Regions from separate parts of the Homo sapiens genome. Here region 1 is linked to region 2. The links come from fine-mapping of genetic effects on gene expression. A gene starts in region 2. The other region holds a variant in brackets. All regions are shown on one strand. Distances are from middle to middle.

Evidence for each region.
Region 1: its variant is fine-mapped to the expression of WDR82 in whole blood (TOPMed, PIP above 0.99).

Annotation. Positions count from the first base shown.
Region 1 is chr3:52,251,288-52,259,437 of GRCh38, reverse strand. It overlaps WDR82 (WD repeat domain 82), which reads left to right. Exons shown (of 9, transcript NM_025222.4): 7 at 172-241; 8 at 760-902; 9 at 1,919-5,004. The coding sequence ends at 1,948. Among named protein-coding and RNA genes, the nearest start is that of PPM1M, 9.6 kb to the right of the region's middle. RefSeq lists an enhancer at 5,688-6,007. The variant A/G (reference allele first, on the strand shown) is at 4,123.
Region 2 is chr3:52,273,028-52,283,295 of GRCh38, reverse strand. It overlaps WDR82 (WD repeat domain 82), which reads left to right and starts at 4,647. Exons shown (of 9, transcript NM_025222.4): 1 at 4,647-5,095. The coding sequence starts at 4,935. It overlaps LOC107986086 (a long non-coding RNA gene), which reads left to right. Exons shown (of 3, transcript XR_001740699.2): 3 at 365-978. RefSeq lists enhancers at 4,024-4,655, 5,125-5,224, 5,635-5,714, 5,735-5,784, 5,288-5,920 and silencers at 4,385-4,674, 4,855-4,934.

The DNA of each region.
Region 1 (8,150 bases), 23 kb after region 2:
GAGTGGATTGTCAACGATGGCAACCACATTTGGAAGCTTGGTGGTGTAGTACATGACAAGGAAAGGGTTTCATGGAAAGGAAGGTGATGCATGTGCTGAGTCAGTGTTTGTAGGCAGCTGTTTTTATTAATGGCTCTGTAAGAACAAAAGAACTGCTCTGTTTTGTTTTAGGGTTATGCCAACAGCAAAGCTGTCACACTGGAGGCTTCATTTACTCCAGACTCTCAGTTTATTATGATTGGTGAGTTTCCTTTTATCCCCTGTGGGGGTTATTTCTCTGGTACTATGCATTTCTTTGTTTAAATTATTAACTGAGACATTATTATCTATTTGATAGATGTTCTTAGATTTCTGTATAGCACATTATGCCAAGGACATAGTGTCTTTTAACTGCCCTGACTGGACCAAAATTTGAGTTAAACTCCACAAGCACTACCTTATTAGTAATGCTAATGTCCTGGTGTAACCCTACATTCAGTCATCTTAGTGGCTGCCTGTTGGTAGGGTAATGGTATTCGGCCCCTTTTTTAGATGAGAAAACTGAAGTTAGAACGGAAGTGACATGCCTGTGAACAAATAGCTAGGGTCAAGATAAATTTCCAAAGTGTCCTTCCTTCACTGCCTCTCCTCCCTCTCAATTTTGCCTGAGGGATGGGTCCTAAAGCTTGGCGTATCCTCAGATCTCAATCCATGTCTCATTTCCAGTTGTCTTTGTATTGCGCCTTGAGCTGTTACATTTTCCGTGAATATCCTCTTTAGGTTCAGAGGATGGCAAGATCCATGTCTGGAATGGAGAGAGCGGTATAAAAGTAGCTGTGTTGGATGGTAAACACACAGGCCCGATTACCTGTTTGCAATTCAACCCCAAGTTCATGACTTTTGCCAGTGCGTGTTCCAACATGGTATGTGAACAGTAAGAGGTATCTGCTACTCAGGGACCCTTCCCAGTTGGGGTGGTGGGTGCCTCAACAAGCACAGCAAGCTGTGTTCTACATAGGTACATTACAAGCATCCAAGTACATGTTTCTCAACTGGTGGTTTCCCTATTTCATCTCCTATTATTTGATCTCTGGCTGGGCTGGTCTTGCCTTTCATTTTTATTCTTCCTAGAGGTGATCAGGAATCATCTTTGAGTTCCAAGGAGATCATAGGCCAGTTTTTGCTCTGGACCCTAATTTTAGGTCCAAACTACCTGGGCTATGCTTGGCAATTTTTTTGCTCCTTAAAATACTCTGAACCGGCCTTTTGTGGTTTCAGTTTTCCATTCCTGTTGGTTTACGCCAAATTCCCAGAAATTTCTACAGTTGGTCATAACTCACCACTTAGAATTAACTCCAGGCCCTTATCTCTTCCTAGATAATACTAACAGAACAAAGGATCAGTGAGTCTCAGCTCCAGTTTTCCCTTGTGATCTCCTAAACCTGCCTGGGTATTCGGGGATGAGACATTTCATTACTAGCCTACCCGGAGCACATTGCCACCTTGCTTTTTTTTTTTAACCAAGAAAAAAATGTTAGAAAAAATACAGCAAAACCATCCAGTTCCTTACTTTTTACAGCCCAGGAAGGTGGGGGCCTGTTGGAGGTAACCTGGTGGATTAGCAATGAGGACAGGTTACTTATTCACCCACCTCCCAGGCAGCACTCCTTTTTTTCCCTTCCTTTAAAAAAAAGGGGGCGGGGGGTCTGCTTTGGTGGAAGGTGGACAGTGATTATTGGAGAAAAACAGAACCATTTTACTTTCACATAGAGGAAAGAGTGTTTCTGTCTCCTTAGAGCATCGGGGTTGGTTGGTTAGGAGAGAGGGCTACCAGAGCCACTGGGGTTGGGCACATTTTTGCTGTGGGGTGGGATGTGAAGAACCGTTGGCAGTGAGGAGATGCTTGGCTTTTTAAAGTTGATTTATGTTCTCCTTCTAGGCCTTTTGGTTGCCCACCATTGATGACTGACCCTGTTGCTGCTTGGCTATTTCTGTATAGTGAGGGCGGCCAGCAGGAAGAAACTCAGAGGGAACTGAGATAATAGTGGGATTGGATCATTTGACTGGGCTGGAGAACATCCTTTTACATGGCCTTCCCATGGATGTGCTGTACATCTGCTCAAAAGAAAATAATTACTTTGATGAGCGTCTTCAAAAGGACTCTTGGTGCAACAGACTCAATTGGAACTCAGCTTTTCTAACTGTCACTGCACCAAGCTCTGCTGGAGGAGTGACCAGACTCACGATTTGGTATAGTGGGGCTCTCAAGCATCTTCAATTTGAATGTACATGCTGCTGAGGAGCCGGTGAAGTCATCAGTTCCGCACATCCCTTCTACCCTCCAACTGCATGGGAAGCCAAAGTCCTGGTTTTGAAATGCTTGGGCAGCTCAGCCGCTTGCCCTCACCCTGCATGTCTTGTTACTGGGTCTCCCTGTGTACTTGTGGCATTATCCACAACCATCATGTTTCTTAGGTGCCAAACATTTACAGAAACATTTTCATATATCTTGGGGTCAGAGAAAGGGACAGATACAGAAGGACCTTGCTTGCAGGAAGCCATGCAGTTAGTTTCTGCAGTTAGTCGTGTGAGGCTAGGTGGTTGGGCAGGCCTCGGGCTGTAGGTGTTGGGTGGGAAAAAGACCCAAGGGCCTGAAAGGGAGGGAAAGGGGAGGGTAGCGGGAGGGTAGCAGGTGAGTTCCTAGGGCTGGAAGGTTTAGCAGCAGCCTGGTGCAGTGCCCTGTCATCAAGACAAACCCACGGTCCTCCTGGGTGCCTACCAAGCTTGGTTTGTACAAAAGCAAGGTGGGAGTCTATTTTTGTACATGAGATACATCACACTTACCTGTGGGCCAGTATTGTGAAGTGAGTCTGAGTTGTTTACACTGATGCCTTCCCTGCCCACCACAAATTGTGTACATAGTCTTCAGATGATACCACCCCTTTCCCCAGCTCCCAACCAAGAGCTGGTTCTAGGCCTGTGTTATATGTCATATTTAGCGTTTTTATATATGACCTTTGATTTCTGTTGTTTGTATTTTAGCACAGTGTATGCACCTTCATTTAAATACATCTGTGTGCATACAGATACGCATATATGTGTGTGCGTATGCATATATCTCTCATCTGTAGTTTCCAAGAGTTCAGCTGAAGCAGATGGAGTCCTGCAGCCCAGGAGACACCCTGCATCCCTGCTAATAGTGTTTGCCACAAGTATTAGTGAGTCTTCCTTATTAATATTTTCATTTCAGAAGACTGAAGCAAAGCTGATAGTGTTTGCTGTTTCTTTGGCAGCTAAGTGAGGGTCTTGGGATGACTTGCTGTGTTCCTCAAGCTGCACTTTGGGGCCATCTCTGCAGTATTAGCCCCCTTTTTGCTTGGTGGTACTCTGTCTGTGCCTGTGTGTGTGTGTGATAGTCACTCTTGCATGGCTTCCATGTCTGGTTTGTGGCATTTGGGGATAAGGTGCTGAAGCCAGAGCATTTGCAGTTTGTTTGAGGCCTCGTTGCCAATGATAGATCACTCCTGTTGACCTGGTATGTCTGCTTGCTTGCTGCTTTTCCTTGCTTTCTCTTGGAAGAGGAAAGGACTCTGGTCAGGCCCAGGCTGAGTGAGATGAGCTGCAGCTGGCTCATGGCCTTCTTAGAGCAGAGAGAGGAGTATGTCATTTTACTAAGTTCCTAAACAAACATTTATGCAGGCAACACTCCTTGCAGATCCAGAAACTGAGGCACAATAGGGTTATGACTTGCTCAAGAATATGTAGCTGCTAGGGGGTAAATCAAGGCATCACAATTTCTGTTCAGCGGGCAGGAATAGGCTGTGAATTGCTAGCACTTTTTTTTTTTAAGCAATTACTTTTTGACTTGTTCCTCTGAAAGTGCAAGAGGCGTACACCTTTCCCAAATGTAGACTAGAATCTGCAGGATGCCACCCACTGTATAGTTCTGCTTTCCCAGAGAGGAAGAACTTTTAGAAACCAAATGATCTTAATTGTTATTGCCCACCCCTGGCTTTTCCGGGTAGAAAATTCACAGTAGGAATGATTGTTAAGAGAGAGTGCTTGGAACCATGGGTTAACAGGAAAGGCTACCTAACTTCACATATCTGCAACCAGAGCAGCCACCAAGCATTACTTAGCAGC[A/G]GGAAAATGATTGTATTTGAGTTCCTGTGTGTCCAAAACTGAGCACCATGTTCTTTGAAAACATGCCACCTCAAGGCTGGGCGCGGTGGCTCACACCTGTAATCCCAGCACTTTGGGAGGCCGAGGCGGGCGGATCACCGGAGGTCGGGAGTTTGAGACCAGCCTGACCAACATGGAGAAACCCCATCTCTACTAAAAATACAAAATTAGCCGGGCGTGGTGGCATGCGCCTATAATCTCAGCTACTTGGGAGGCTGAGGCAGGAGAATTGCTTGAACCCAGGAGGCGGAGGTTGCGGTGAGTTGAGATCGTGCCATTGCACTCCGGCCTGGGCAACAACAGCAAAACTCCGTCTCAAAAAAAAAAAAAAAAAAATGCCACCTCACAGTCTCTATCGTTGGGCCCTGTGGTTGCAAAGCTGCCTCCTGAATTAAGAAGGAAAGGGAAAAGATATAGCTGGAAGCGAGTGGAAGAGATGCTGAGGGCTGGGGCTGCACAGACGTGCTCAGCAGGGCTACAGGTGCTCAAGCCCTATTGGGGATGGGTGGGGAGTGGGGCAGCGGCGTTTGCCACCTTAAGAATTGGGGCCAAAGCCACTGATGTTTATTTGACAGTGACACTGCACTGGGTACTTAAAGAAATTATTTCCCGTTGTAATTATAATTACTGCTTATTAAGGAAAATATGGGAATTTTAGAAAGAATCAAGTTTGCCACCCAAATGCTACCACTGTTAATCTTTTGGTGTTAAATGTTCCCCCTAGACATTTCTGTGCATAGATTTTTGGTGTGTTTACATAGTCGTTATTCTGTATATACAATTTTATGTCCCTTTTGTACTTAACGTATAAACATTTTTTCCATGTTACAGTCTTAAACAGAATTTTATGGCTGCAGCCTCTTCGATTTGAGTTTCTGTAGCATGGTTTGCCTGGTTCCCAGAGCTGGAGGGAGGCTTGGGTTGTCTCCTGTTAGTTCTGGCTCACACTGCAGCTTGCTGTAATGCTGTGTAGACGGATTGCTGGGCTCCCTGGGACTGCCTCTGACTGCCCCTTGGTAACTAAGATTTATGGGCTGGTGGGAGGAACCCCTAGAACCAGCCTTCAACCCCAGGCTGTAATAGCCATAGAGCCAGCAATGACTGACGGGGCAAGGCAAGCCTGAGCCAGCCTGAATCTTCGGAGACTGTCTGGCACTTACCTCAGGCTGCCTTGCATCCTCTACTGTTTACTCAACCCTTCACCAGATTGACAACCTCTAGTTGGAATATGTTTTGTCCTGCTAGACCCTGGTTTCAGGAAGGCAAGAATACTGGAGTCTCTCTGAGGCCCCAGCACCCAGTCTGGCAGAAGGCAATTGCTTTGGTAACCCATTTGCCTGGAGGCTGCTGCTCTAGCTCAGCATTCTCAGAGCTGTAGAACCTGCTTCCTGCTCTTGCCTCGCCCTCTCTGGACCAGAGAAGAAAACCTTGGGCCTGCCACATTTTCACATTGCTCATGGGACTCTGCAACAGTGGCGGAGGGAACATCCTAGCTTGTGTGTGACAGGCCATGCACAGGCTCTTCTGACACTACGTACGTAGGAAGAGACCCCCTCCTGGCCTGGTGGGAGGACTGCTGCCGTGTTCAGCTCTGCTGGGAGACATGAACAAGTAGGTAAGCATGGCTGCCCTTAGAGCAGCCACTCTGGTCTCTGTCCTGCTCGCAACTGAAAGACCTACTTCACCCACCCCCCAGGCTTCATTCAGCCTTGTGACGTGAGGAACAACAGCAGGCATGGTAGCAAGCTAGGCAAGCAGGCTGTGGGGGCGAGCTGGCTCAGCAGTTGATGTGGGTAAGAGAAGCAGGCACAGGATGCTGCCCACCCTTTTTTTTTTTTTTGCTCAGGCGGAGTGGTGAGGTAGTGGAGGCTGTGGTGAGGAAAGAGGAAGTGACACTCCTACAGGCTGGTAGGACAGCACTCAAGCTGCCTGGCTAGAGGAGTCCTAGCAAGACTACCATAGGGCCTAGCTGTGGACAGGTTCAACCCTGAAGTCCTGCACTGTGGAATATAGCAGTGGGAAATATCTGATGCAGTTTTTCCAGTCTTCCCTGGAGAATGTGTAGGAAATGAAATCTAGAGTTAATGGGTAGGAAAGGGGGTCTGAGGCTGGGTGCAGTGGCTCACGCCTGTAATCCCAGCACTTTGGGAGACCGAGGTGGGTGGATCACCTGAGGTCAGGAGTTTGAGACCAGGCTGGCCAACATGATGAAACCCCATCTCTACTAAAAATATTGGGTGTGGTGGTGTGTGCCTGTAATTCCAACTGTTCAGGAGGCTGAGGCAGGAGAATCACTTGAACCCAGGAGGCTAGAGGTTGCAGTGAGCTGAGATGGCACCATTACACTCCAGCCTGGGCGACAAGAGTGAAGCTCCATCTCAAAAAAAAAAAAAAAAAAGCCGGGGTGGGGTGGGTTCTGAGAGCCTCTCAGTTGAGTTAATTATACAGGTTTTACCATTGGCTCTGCGACCTGTTGGATATTCTTCTTGGCTGCAATTTTGGGCTGTCAGTTGCCTGGTGAGAGAATTCACCTAAATTATAAAGTAGGAGTAAATCAGAGAAGGGTCAAGTAAAGCTGAGGTCATGAAGGTGGTTTGCCTTGTAATTCAATAGATACTTCCTGAGCACTTGAGCTTTGGTACGTTCTAGTTGACAGCATGGCTGTTTTTGTTTTGTTTTGTTTTTGAGACAGTTTTGCTCTTATTGCCCAGGCTGGAGTACAACGGTGCGATCTTGGCTCACTGCAACCTCCGCCTCCCGGGTTCAAGCGATTCTCCTGCCTCAGCCTCCCGAGTAGCTGGGATTACAGGCATGTGCCACCACACCTGGCTAATTTTGTATTTTTAGTAGAGACAGGGTTTCAACATGTTGGTCAGGCTGGTCTCAAACTCCGGACCTCAGGTGATCTGCCTGCTCAGCCTCCCAAAGTGCTGGATGACACACCTGAGCCACCAGGCCTGGCCCCATTTTTTTGTTTGTTTTGTTTTGTTTTGAGACAGAGTCTCACTGTGTTGTCCAGGCTGGAGTGGAGTGGCACAATCTCCCCTCACTGCAACCTCCACCTCCTGGGTTCAGGTGATCCTCCCACCTCAGCCTTCCAAGTAGCTGGGACCACAGGCATATATCACCATGCCCTACTAATTTTTTGTATTTTTGATAGAGATGGGGTTTCACCATGTTGTTCAGGATGGTCTCAAACTCCCGAGCTCAAGTGATCTACCTGCTTCAGCCTCCCAAAGTCCTGGGATTACAGGCATGAGCCACTGTGCCCCAGCCAAGATGACAGCATAGTCTTTTTGGAGAAGATGAACTAAGCTGCTTATTAAACAGCAAGCCCTAAGGCCCTAACTTTTATCCAGCTAATTATAGCTTTATAGAAATCTGCATTCAAAAGTAAGTGAAAAAGTCACAGTGTACATCTGTAATTCCAGCTACAGGCTGGGAGGACTGCTTGAACCCAGCAGTTTGAGACTATCCTGGGCAAAATAGACCCTGTCTCATTACTTTTTATTTTTAGTTTTTTGAGATGGAGTCTCGCTCTGTTGCCCAGGCTGGAACGCAGTGGCACAATCTCAGCTCACTGCAACCTCCACCTCCCAGGTTCAAACGATTATTCTGCCTCAGCCTCCTGGGCAGCTGGTACTACAGGCACGTGCGACCATGCCCGGCTAATTTTTGTATTTTTAGTAGAGACAGGGTTTCACCATATTGGCCAGGCTGGTCTCGAACTGACCTCATGATCGGCCTGCTTCGGCCTCCCAAAGTGCTGGGATTACAGGTCTGAGCCACCATGCCTGGCCTTACATTTTTTTTTTTAAGTGAAAAAACCACCCTTCCAGTATCTCAAGCCCAGAGCCTACAAGTAGTGGAGGCTGGGCATGGTGGCTCACGCCTGTAATCCCAGAGAGGCTGAGGTGGGATTATCACTTGCATCCAGGAGTTTGAGCCAGTCTGGGCAACACAGACCCTGTCTCTACAAAAAATAAAAA
Region 2 (10,268 bases):
CATGGGTGTGTGACTTGTATAGTCAGAAGGACCCTGCACTTCATTTAATATTCTGTTGTTGTCATCTTGAGATTCTTAGCAATTTTTTAACAAGGGGCCCTACAAATTGGGTAGTTAGTCCTGCTGCCAGGGAAAGATACTTTCTTTTTATCCAGGCCCCCGGTCCTGGAGTCTCAAGACCTCTCTGAGGAATTCCAGTAGAAGTGGACATACATTAGTAACTAAATTTATTTATTATTTCTGGTCATATTCATGTATATCCCACAAGATTTTCCATGCACACACTTAAATTCTGTCTAAATAAAAATGGCTTACTTCATCCTTGTAATATTTATTTTTTTTCTTTCTTTTTTTTTTGAGACAGAGTTTCACTCTATCGCCCAGGCTGGAGTGCGATCTCGGCTCTGCAACCTCCGCCTCCCGGGTTCAAGCAATTCTCCTGCCTCAGCCTCCCGAGTAGCTGGGACTACAGGCGCACACCACCATGCTTGGCTAATTTTTGTATTTTTTGGTGGAGTCGCAGTTTCACCATGCTGCCCAAGCTGGTCTTGAACTCCTGACCTCAAGTGATTCACCCACCTTGGCCTCCCAGAGTGCTGGGATTACAGGCATGAGCCACTGTGCCTGGCCCTTATCTGAGGAATTTAGAAGGGAGCAAAGACCACCTGGTAACCATCCAACAGGCCATCCAGAGGCAAAACTCCTTATCTGGGGAAATTAGAAGTAATTAAACTTCCCTAGTATCTAAAGTGGGCATCTGGTTCCAGGCCTCTTTCAACTTTTATAAGTAACTAAAATTTCTAGGCATCTCTGGAATGTCATGCTGAAACTAATTTTACAACCCTAAGCTCCTGCCTGAAGGTCCATAAATGCACCTAAGGAAAATCCACCAAGGCCCTCAGTCCTCTCGCTGGGGTGCCCCGCTGCACTCTTCTGCAGCGTTCTTTCTTTCTAAGAAATTTTCCTTTTTCAAACCTATACTGTTGTCAGTAAATTTTTTGCCAACCTGTGAGGCGACCACTTCCTGGTGCTGGGGCTCAGACACCTCACCAGGCATTTTGTGTTCTAGTGTTCTGCGTTTCCTCTTTGGCAATTAAGCTCACACACACACACACTCAACTGTCCCAAAGAAGAGAGTCACCTGATTCTAGTTATTCCGAGGGCTGTGTAAGCACTGATACACACACACACTGTCACACTTACACACATGCAACTGTCCCAAAGAAGAGAGTCACCTGATTCTAGTTATTCCAAGGGTTGAGTAAGACGTTAGTCAATCTCTAGGGAAGCCCTGCTGCTGGGCACTGGAGCTCAGAAATTTATCTCAAAGAATTAGAATTCATAAGGAGCTCTGTGTTTTGGAAAGAGGACACATTGTTTAGGACAGTTTCCATTCCAATTGTGCAGCATGAAATAGAAAAATTTAATAAGTGGGCCAATCAAGTATCTGGAATCCTTTGGATAAATTCATTTATTCAATTAATCCATACTGAGCTCTGGCTGGGCTCTGGACAAAATGGGAAGCAAAATTACTTTACAGCCATATAATAGAATAGTTTGTAGCCATTCAAAATGATTGTATCGATATTTATTGACCTGGAATATGTTCATAGTATGGGTAAACTTACAAACAATATATTATGAACCCAATAAAAATATATTTCAGGGATTGGCTGGGTGTGGTGGCTCATGCCTGTAATCCCAGCACTTTGGGATGGTGAGGCAGGCAGATCACCTGAGGTCAGCAGTTCAAGACCAGCCAGGCCAACATGATAAAACCTCGTCTGTACTAAAAATACAAAATTAGCTGGGCGTGGTGGCGGGCATCTATAGGAGGCTGAGGCAGGAGAATCACTTGAACCCAGGACATGGAGGTTACAGTGAGCTGAGAGCACGCCACTGCACTCCAGTCTGGGTGACAGAGCAGGAAAAAAAAAAAAAAAAAAAAAAAAAAAATATATATATATATATATATGTATATGAAAAAATCGGAAAGGTTCTACATCAAAATGGTAAATTTCGTGTTATATATATTTCACTATAATAAAAGATTGTAACAGTGGCTATCTCTGGATGCTGTTTTTATTATTTGTATTTTTTAGTTTTTTTGCAATGAATATGTGACAAGTAAAAGAATGACTACAAATAAAAGGAAACATAAAAAATTAAGTCTGATGCTCTTTTAAAGCCCATCTGATTCACTCTTGACTGCAGCTTTCTCTCCATCCACCCATCCACTGGAGCCGGCTTTCTGTGTCACTTTTTAAAGTCCATTTTTTTTTTTTTTTTGAGACGGAGTCTTGCTCTAATGCCCAGTGCAGTGGTGTGATCTCGGCTCACTACAACCTCTGCCTCCCGGATTCAAGCGATTCTCCTGCCTCAGCCTCCCAAGTAGCTGGGATTACAGGTGCCCGCCACTGTGCCCAGCTAATTTTTGTATTTTTAATAGAGACAGGGTTTCACCATTTTGGCCAGGCTGGTTTTGAACTCCCGACCTTGTGATCTACCCACCTCGGCCTCCCAAAGTGCCACCGCACCTGGCCTAAAGTCCATCCTTTAAGGCAACCATACTGTTGGGCTGGAAGCCAGGAGAGCCCCACTATAATAGGGCAGGGAGCCAGGCTAGGAATTGGAAACAGTAAGAATGCGAAACAGGATGAGGATTTGAAGACCCTCTTAAAAATGGGGGAAAAAAAAAAAGACTGCATTCCAAAAATAATGCAGAAAGTCAAGTCTTGGGAGGAAGGTTTGGTCTTAACGGTGAAATCTGGAAAAGGTATAGGAAGTACAATACTTGAAAAATACCCTGCAAAGATTTATTTTGGCTGGCAACATTCAGTAGATTACAGCTGTTTCTGTGGTTATTTTTGTAGATTAACATGGACCAAAATATGGCATCATCTTACTGGGTGTGTTCACTTCCCGACAGTTCTAGAACATGGTACTCGATCTGTCCTTGTTGCCTTCTAAACTATTCGAAGCAGACGCTGTATCAGACTTTCTAGCTTCTGAAATAAAGGCACAGGAATTACAGGGAAGCAGAGCAAGTGATCTGGGACGTGGAGGGTTTTTCTTCCATTGTGTGCAGTTTGGAAAGTTGCCATCTATTCAGGTTTCACTCAAACCGGCTTTTTCCAGACCCCAGAACAAATTGTAGCCAGAAGCTCTGCTCTTTGTCAGGAGGCAATTATACCCCAGACTTAGCCAGGAACTTGCCTCTTCCCTTAGAGAACAACTTCTCTTTATGTATAAGGATCCTGGCTCTCCTTTTACCCAGGGGGTTGGGATACAGCCTCTAGTTCTTTCTAGAAAGACCCCAACTGTCCCAGGGTTTCCATTTTGTTTTTTACCATTGCACAGGTCTCTGGATAATAACCTTCCTAATAGCGACTGAAATGTCTCACAGCCTTTCCTCGTTTTTGTTTCTCTTTAGCTAAAGAAAGCAAAAATAAATAATCCCCATCTTCATTGTTGGAAACCCCAGGCAATTAACCTTTTGAGGAGCTTCACACAAGATACAGATCTGTGAAGCCACATAGGTTGGCATTGAGTTTAACCCCTTGCCCAGAAAGTTAAGGTTAGGAAGCTTGGTTCCTATTTTCTGTTCAAATACTGCTTTCCTTTGTTAGAGATAAACTTTCTTTTAAGGCAAATAATCACTTATATGATAGAACCTTTAAAATAATCCTGTTGACTACAAACAGGATAGTGCAACTCTTCCAAATCTTGAATGTGGTGGTGACTGCATGACTGTGTATGGGTGTCAGAACATAAAACTAGCCACTAAAAAGGCTAATTTTTGGGGGGAAACCGTCTGCTCTGTCGCCCAGCCTGGAATGCAGTGGCACGATTTCGGCGCACTGCAGCCTCCGCCTTTCTCAATTCTCGTGCCTCAGCCGCGCCATCATGCCCGGCTAATTTTTTGTATTTTAGTAGAGGTGGGGTTTTGTCATGTTGGCCAGGCTGGTCTCAACTCCTGAGCTCAAGCGATCATCCCGCCTCGGCCTCCCAAAGTGGTGGGTTTAAAGGCGTGAGCCACCGCGCCCGGCCTAAAAAGGCTGATTTTTACTGTACCTAAAGTCTACCTCGATTAAGAAAACGAGGCCGGGTGCGGGTGAGGTCAGGAGTTCGAGACCAGCCTGGCCAACATGGTGAACCCCCGTCTCTACCAAAAATACAAAATTAGCTGGGCGTGGTGGCGCGCGCCTGAGCGAGAGACTCCATCTCCAAAAAAAAAAAAAAAAGTAAAGAGGTCGAAGCTGTCTAAGCGGACGCTGCGGTGGACTAGCGGTCAAGCTTGCCTGCGAGCGGCTCACCTGAGTCACCCCCAAAACCGGCCTCCAGCAGCATACCCGACCCTGCAGTACCCCCTCCCACGCAGCCTGCGATCGGGACGCCTGCAGGAGGCGCCAGAGTCTTCGCGGGGGTTGCAATCCCGCGCAAGGGCCCCCGGCTCCCAAGGCATCCGCAACCTTCCGATCCCCCGGGAAGGCCCTGCACGTCTCGGCCGCTCCCTGCCAGCAGCCCGCCCCGCCACTACACTCCGCCGCGGCCGCGCTGACGTCACCACCCCGCCTCCCCGCCTTGCTCCGCCGTTCCCGCCCCGCCCCCTTTCCCGGCGTGCGCCGCGGCTGAGGCTCCTCGCCCTCAGCTTCTGCCTGTCGCCCCAAAATGGCGGACACAATGAGCCGGCGACGCGCCGGTTGTCCGTGAGGTGGCTGTGAGGACGAACGGTCGGCGAGGCTCCACAGTCCAGGCAGAAGACCCTCGACCAAGCAGGAAGAAGAGGAGGAGGCGGCCCAACTGTTGGCCGACTTCCCGCTAGCCGCCGGCGCGGCGCCCGCCCCGCCTGGGTTGGCCCCTCGGCAGCCCGCCCGCTCGCCGCCGGGCCCCGCCCCGGCCCTGCGCCGCCGCTGCCTTCCCCAGCCGCCGCCATGAAGCTGACCGACAGCGTGTTGCGGAGCTTCCGCGTCGCTAAGGTGTTCCGCGAAAACTCGGACAAGATTAACTGCTTCGATTTCAGCCCCAACGGCGAGACGGTCATCTCGAGTAGCGACGACGACTCCATCGTGCTCTATGACTGCCAGGAGGGCAAGTGAGTGCGGCGGAGGCCCTGGGCCCGAGTCTCAGTGCCTCCCTCCGGTGGCCCAGCACAGGTCCCTCGGCCTGCCCTCCGTCCCGACTTCAGCCCCCAGCCTATTTTGCACGCGTTCCTGCCAGGGCCGCCTCCACCCCGCAGCCGTCCAGGAGACCTTTTATTTTTTTCTTCTTAAAAAAAAAAGATAACGATAGTCATAATTTTATAATATTATTTGTATGTCTTCGGTCTCCTTTGAGCGCTATGCATCACTTGCCAAACCCCACCTTGACCTTGACCTTTAAACGCCCGGTCCGCCCACCCTGGGCCCACCAGGTAGCGTTTTCAGCTCCTCAGGCTGTCAAAGGTGCTGGTCTGCTCCGGCCTCGACGCAGGACTGCAGGGGCTGCTTTTCTGCCTCCTTCGGCAGCGTCAGCTCTCTCTTGTGCTCTCTCCACTGTGACCTCGATTCCGCCCTGGCACTCCGCCCATCCCCTGCCCCTCAGCTTCCCGCGGCCTTTCTGCCGTCAGACCGCGTGGGTTGCACTTCTTAGCTGTCAGGATTTATTTGTTGTGCCCCTTTGAGCCCCCTTGCTTTTTCTTCCTGCTCCTAGCCTTTCTCTTACTCATTCAGACTTGGTGCCCACGTTCATAAGTGAACTTTTCAGCAACATCTAAAACTTCCTTTTTGCCACACACAAACGAACTTGGTCGTCCCATCCTGACCTGAATGTGAGCTTCCGTTAAAACAAAGCAAGCATCGTAGAACAATTTCAGGTTTCCTTTCATACTTTTTTTTTTCTATTACACTTTTTGGTCCACTTTGAATTCCAATTCTGATCATGAAACTTTTATGTTGCCACAAGTCATCTGGAGACCCACCATACCTGCATCTTTTCGCAAAATCTAAGCACAGCACTTTGCCTTTTTCCCTGGGGGTCCTTGTCAGCCCTCCTCACCGCACGCCTGTGGACTTGCAGCTCCTTGGAGCCAAAAACTAGTTTAGATTAAATTCGTTTTACCCTTAGCCACCTTCCCCAAGAAGGCTTGCTGATGTTTGGTTTAATTCGGTGGACCCTGGTTTTTTCAGACTTGATTTTGTCACCTAGTAACAGATATTATTATTATTATTATTATTATTATTATTATTATTTGAGATCTTGGGTTTTTCTCCACCTTCTCCAGCTGTTCCTTTTTCCTTTTTTTTTTTTTAGACTGGTGTCCTTCTTTTGGAACATATCTCTTCATTTGTGAATTTGATTATCTGAAGTAATGCTAGTTTGGACTGAGCTATAATGGTATCCCCCCAGTTTTTTTCCCCACTGGGGCTGTGAGAAAGTATTATGTAACCGGCTCTGGATCTGCCTGCAGTTTGTGGCAGAGTGGTCTGCAGTGGTGGTCTTAAGGAAGAGGGAATTGTTAGCTGGACAAATAGTTATTTGAGTCAGTGTTACTCATTGAGTAGATGGATTTCTGTCCTGGTCTGGTCACTTGAATCAGTTTAGAAGACGAAGTAACATTTAAAGGTGTGGTAGTAGGGTCAGCATTGTGGGGTCCTGGAGGAGTAATTTGAAGCTGGCTTGCATGAAATGTATAGTGCTTATGCACAGATTAGAACCTCTTCCCAGAACCTGAGGGTGGAGATGTATATCCTCATTTAAAGGAAATGAAGGTTGTTATAGCATTTCTTTGCAGTTTGTCCCCAAATTTGGCGTAATTTTGATTTGGGAAGGATGACCTTGACATGAAGTCCTGTCTTTCTTTTTTTTGTTTTTTTTTTTCGGGTGGGGGACGGAGTCTCTCTCCGTCGCCCAGGCTGGAGTGTAGTGGCGCGATCTTGGCTCACTGCAACCTCTGCCTCCCGGGTTCAAGCGATTCTCCTGCCTCACCCTCACAAATAGCTGGGATTACAGGCGCCTGCCACCATACCCTAACTTTTGTATTTTTAGTAGAGATGGGGTTTCACCATGTTGACCAGACTGGTCTTGAACTCCTGACCTCAAGTGATCCACCCGCCTTGGCCTTCCAAAGTGCTAGGATTATAGGCATGAGCTGCTGTGCCTGGCCAAATCCTGTCTTGTTAAAAGTAAAATGCTAGTTTTGTGACATAAGGCAGTTTATTTACTCGTAGCATTTTTACATAATTAGAAACTAACAAAGTTACAGTGTTTCAAAGAACTCCCATATGATTCAATAACTGGTTACATTTTCTGCATTTGCTTCATGACTGTAGGTAAATATTTATATGTACTGTGTGCCTCCCCCCACCTTTAGAGTTGGAGGTATCAAGCCCCTTTATCCCTAAACACTTCAACATGGATTTTCTTTCTTTTTTGAGATGGAGTCTCGCTCAGTCGCCCAGGCTGGAGTGCAGTGGCGTGATCTTGGCTCACTGCAACCTCCGGCTCCTGGGTTCAAGCGATTCTCCTGCCTCAGCCTCCTGAGTAGCTGGGATTACAGGTGCATGCCACCATGCCTGGCTAATTTTTGTATCTTTAGTAGAGGCAGGGTTTCACCATGTTGGTCAGGCTGGTCTTGAACTCCTGATCTCGTGATCTACCCGCCTCAGCCTCCCAAAGTGCTGGGATTCCAGGCATGAGCCACTGCGCCCGGCTCAACGTGGATTTTCTAAGCACAAAGACATTCTTATGTAACCAGAGCACAGTTATCCAAATTAGGAAATTTAGTACTGATACAATACTACAGGGCATGCTCTTGAGTTTTCTCTGATCAATTAATTGTAACCTTGTTTCATTATCTGTGGTGAAGGAGTGGCCTGGTAGTTAGGAGGGAACTGGGTACTAGTTTGGCCTGTGACTAGGTATGTGACATTGGTCAGATTACTTCTTTGGGTATTAGACAACCTCTTTAGTTTCCATTCTAGGCAATAATATGATGAAAAATTTTGTCACTAGTATAGGTCAAACCGACCTCAGAAGAAAAGAAGTATTTCCTTGGGAAGGCATGGTATTGTATCTTTTATTTATTTATTTTTTTGATAGGGACTTTCGCTCTTGTTGCCCAGGCTGGAGTGCAGTGGCTCCATCTCGGCTCACTGCAACCTCCGCCTCCCGAGTTCAAGCGATTCTCCTGCCTCAGCCTCCTGAGTAGCTGGGATTACAGGCATGCGCCACCACACCTGGCTAATTTTGTATTTTTAGTAGATGCGGGATTTCTCCATGTTGGTCAGGCTGGTCTCGAATTCCCGACCTCAGGTGATCCGCCGCCTCGGCCTCCCAAAGTGCTGGGATTGCAGGCATGAGCCACTGCGCCCGGCCTTTCTTTTTGTTTGTTTGTTTGTTTTGTTTTGTTTTGTTTTTGAGACTGCCTCACTCTTTCCTAGGCTGGAGTGCAGTGGCGTAATCTTGGCTCACTGCTGCAACCTCGCTGCTGGATTCAAGCGATTCTCGTGCCTCAGCCTCCCGAGTAGCTGGGATTACAGGCACCCATCAGTGTGCCTGCTAATTTTTGTATTTTTAGTAGAAATGGGGTTTCACAATGTTGGCCATGTTGGTCTCAACATCTTACCTCAAGTGATCTGCCCACCTCGGTCTCCTCGGCCTCCCAGAGTGCTGGGATTACATATGTGAGCCTCCGCACCCGGCCCTGTTTTTTTGTTTTGTTTTGTTTTGTTTTTTTGTTTGTTTGTTGTTAAGACAAAGGTCTTCCCCTGTTGCTCAGGCTGGAGTGCAATAGCATGCTTATAGTTCACTAAAGCCTTCATCTTCTGGGCTCAAGTGATCTTCCCACCTCAATCTCCAAAGTAGTTGGGCCTACAAGCACTCGCCAACTTACTTGGCTATTTTTATTTTTAGTGGAGACAAGTTCTCACCAGGTTGCCCAGGCTGGTCTCAAACTCCTGAACTCAAGCGATCCTCTCACCTAGGCCTCCCAAAGTGCTGGGATTACAGGTGTTAGCTACTGTGACCGGCCGAAGGCATAGTATCTTTATTAGATGACCCTAGTGTTAGAATTTGGGAGTTTGAAAATGGCTAAAGCAAGATTTTGTGTGCTTAGTATTTTCCAGTTTACTGGTCATTTAAATTTTCTTTACAATGGAGTTCGCCCATTGAGTGATATTTCAATTTGGAAGAGTATAAAGGATATTGTTTGTGGTAGGTGAAGCAAATTACTCAAAGTGAAAGGTTAATATTATTTTCCTTGTTGATGCTTGATCACCAGAATTATAGTTTGAGGAAGGAAGCTTACCAAAATATTTGAAAAATGTTGTGCATGTATTTTGTAAGACCCACATGGATGCAGTACAGTATAATCTTGCTTTCAAGTTAGGAAATGAGTCCAGGTGTGGTGGCTCACACTTGTAATCCCAGCACTTTGGGAGGCCGAGGCGGGTGGATCGCCTGGGTCAGGAGTTCAAAACCAGCCTGGACAATGTGGTGAAACCTTGTCTATACAGAAAAATACAAAAATTAGCTGAGCCTGGTGGCAGGGGCCTGTAATCCCAGCTACTCAGGAGGCTGAGGCAGGGAGAATTGCTTGAACCGGGGACGCAGAGGTTGCAGTGAGCCGAGATCGTGCCTCTGCACTCCAGCCAGGGTAACAGAGCGAGAATGTCTCAAAAACATAAAAATAATAAAAATCAAATTGGGAAATGAAATGAGGCAGTAGATTTCTGTTATCAGGAAAAAAAATCTCAGGTTAGTGTTTTTGATAAATTTGAGACAAATAGACCAGATCTAAGTGGAACCAGAAATTTTCCTTACACTATTCTCTTTCAACTTGTCAAGTTAGAGTTGGCTCTTCATGTTCTGTCTTTTTTTTTTTTTAAGACGGAGTTTCGCTCTTGTTGCCCAGGTCGGAGTACAATGGCGCGATCTTGGCTCAATGCAACCTCCATGTCCCGGGTTCCAGTGATTCTCCTACCTCAGCCTCCCAAGTAACTGGGATTACAGGTGCCCACCACCACACCTGGCTAATTTTTTTAATTTTTAGTAGAGATGGGATTTCACCCTGTTAGCCAGGCTGGTCTCAGACTCCTGACCTCAGGTGATCCACCCACCTTGGCTTCCCAAAGCCTGAGATTACAGGCGTGAGCCACTGCGCCCGGCCAGTTTCTGTCTTTGCTATTGTAGATGGGATGAAATAACTGATATAAACTTCTTCCACTGGTAGCAGAGTCAACTATGTAGAGAGTAAGTATACAGCCACACACTGAGACTGCCTCACTGGT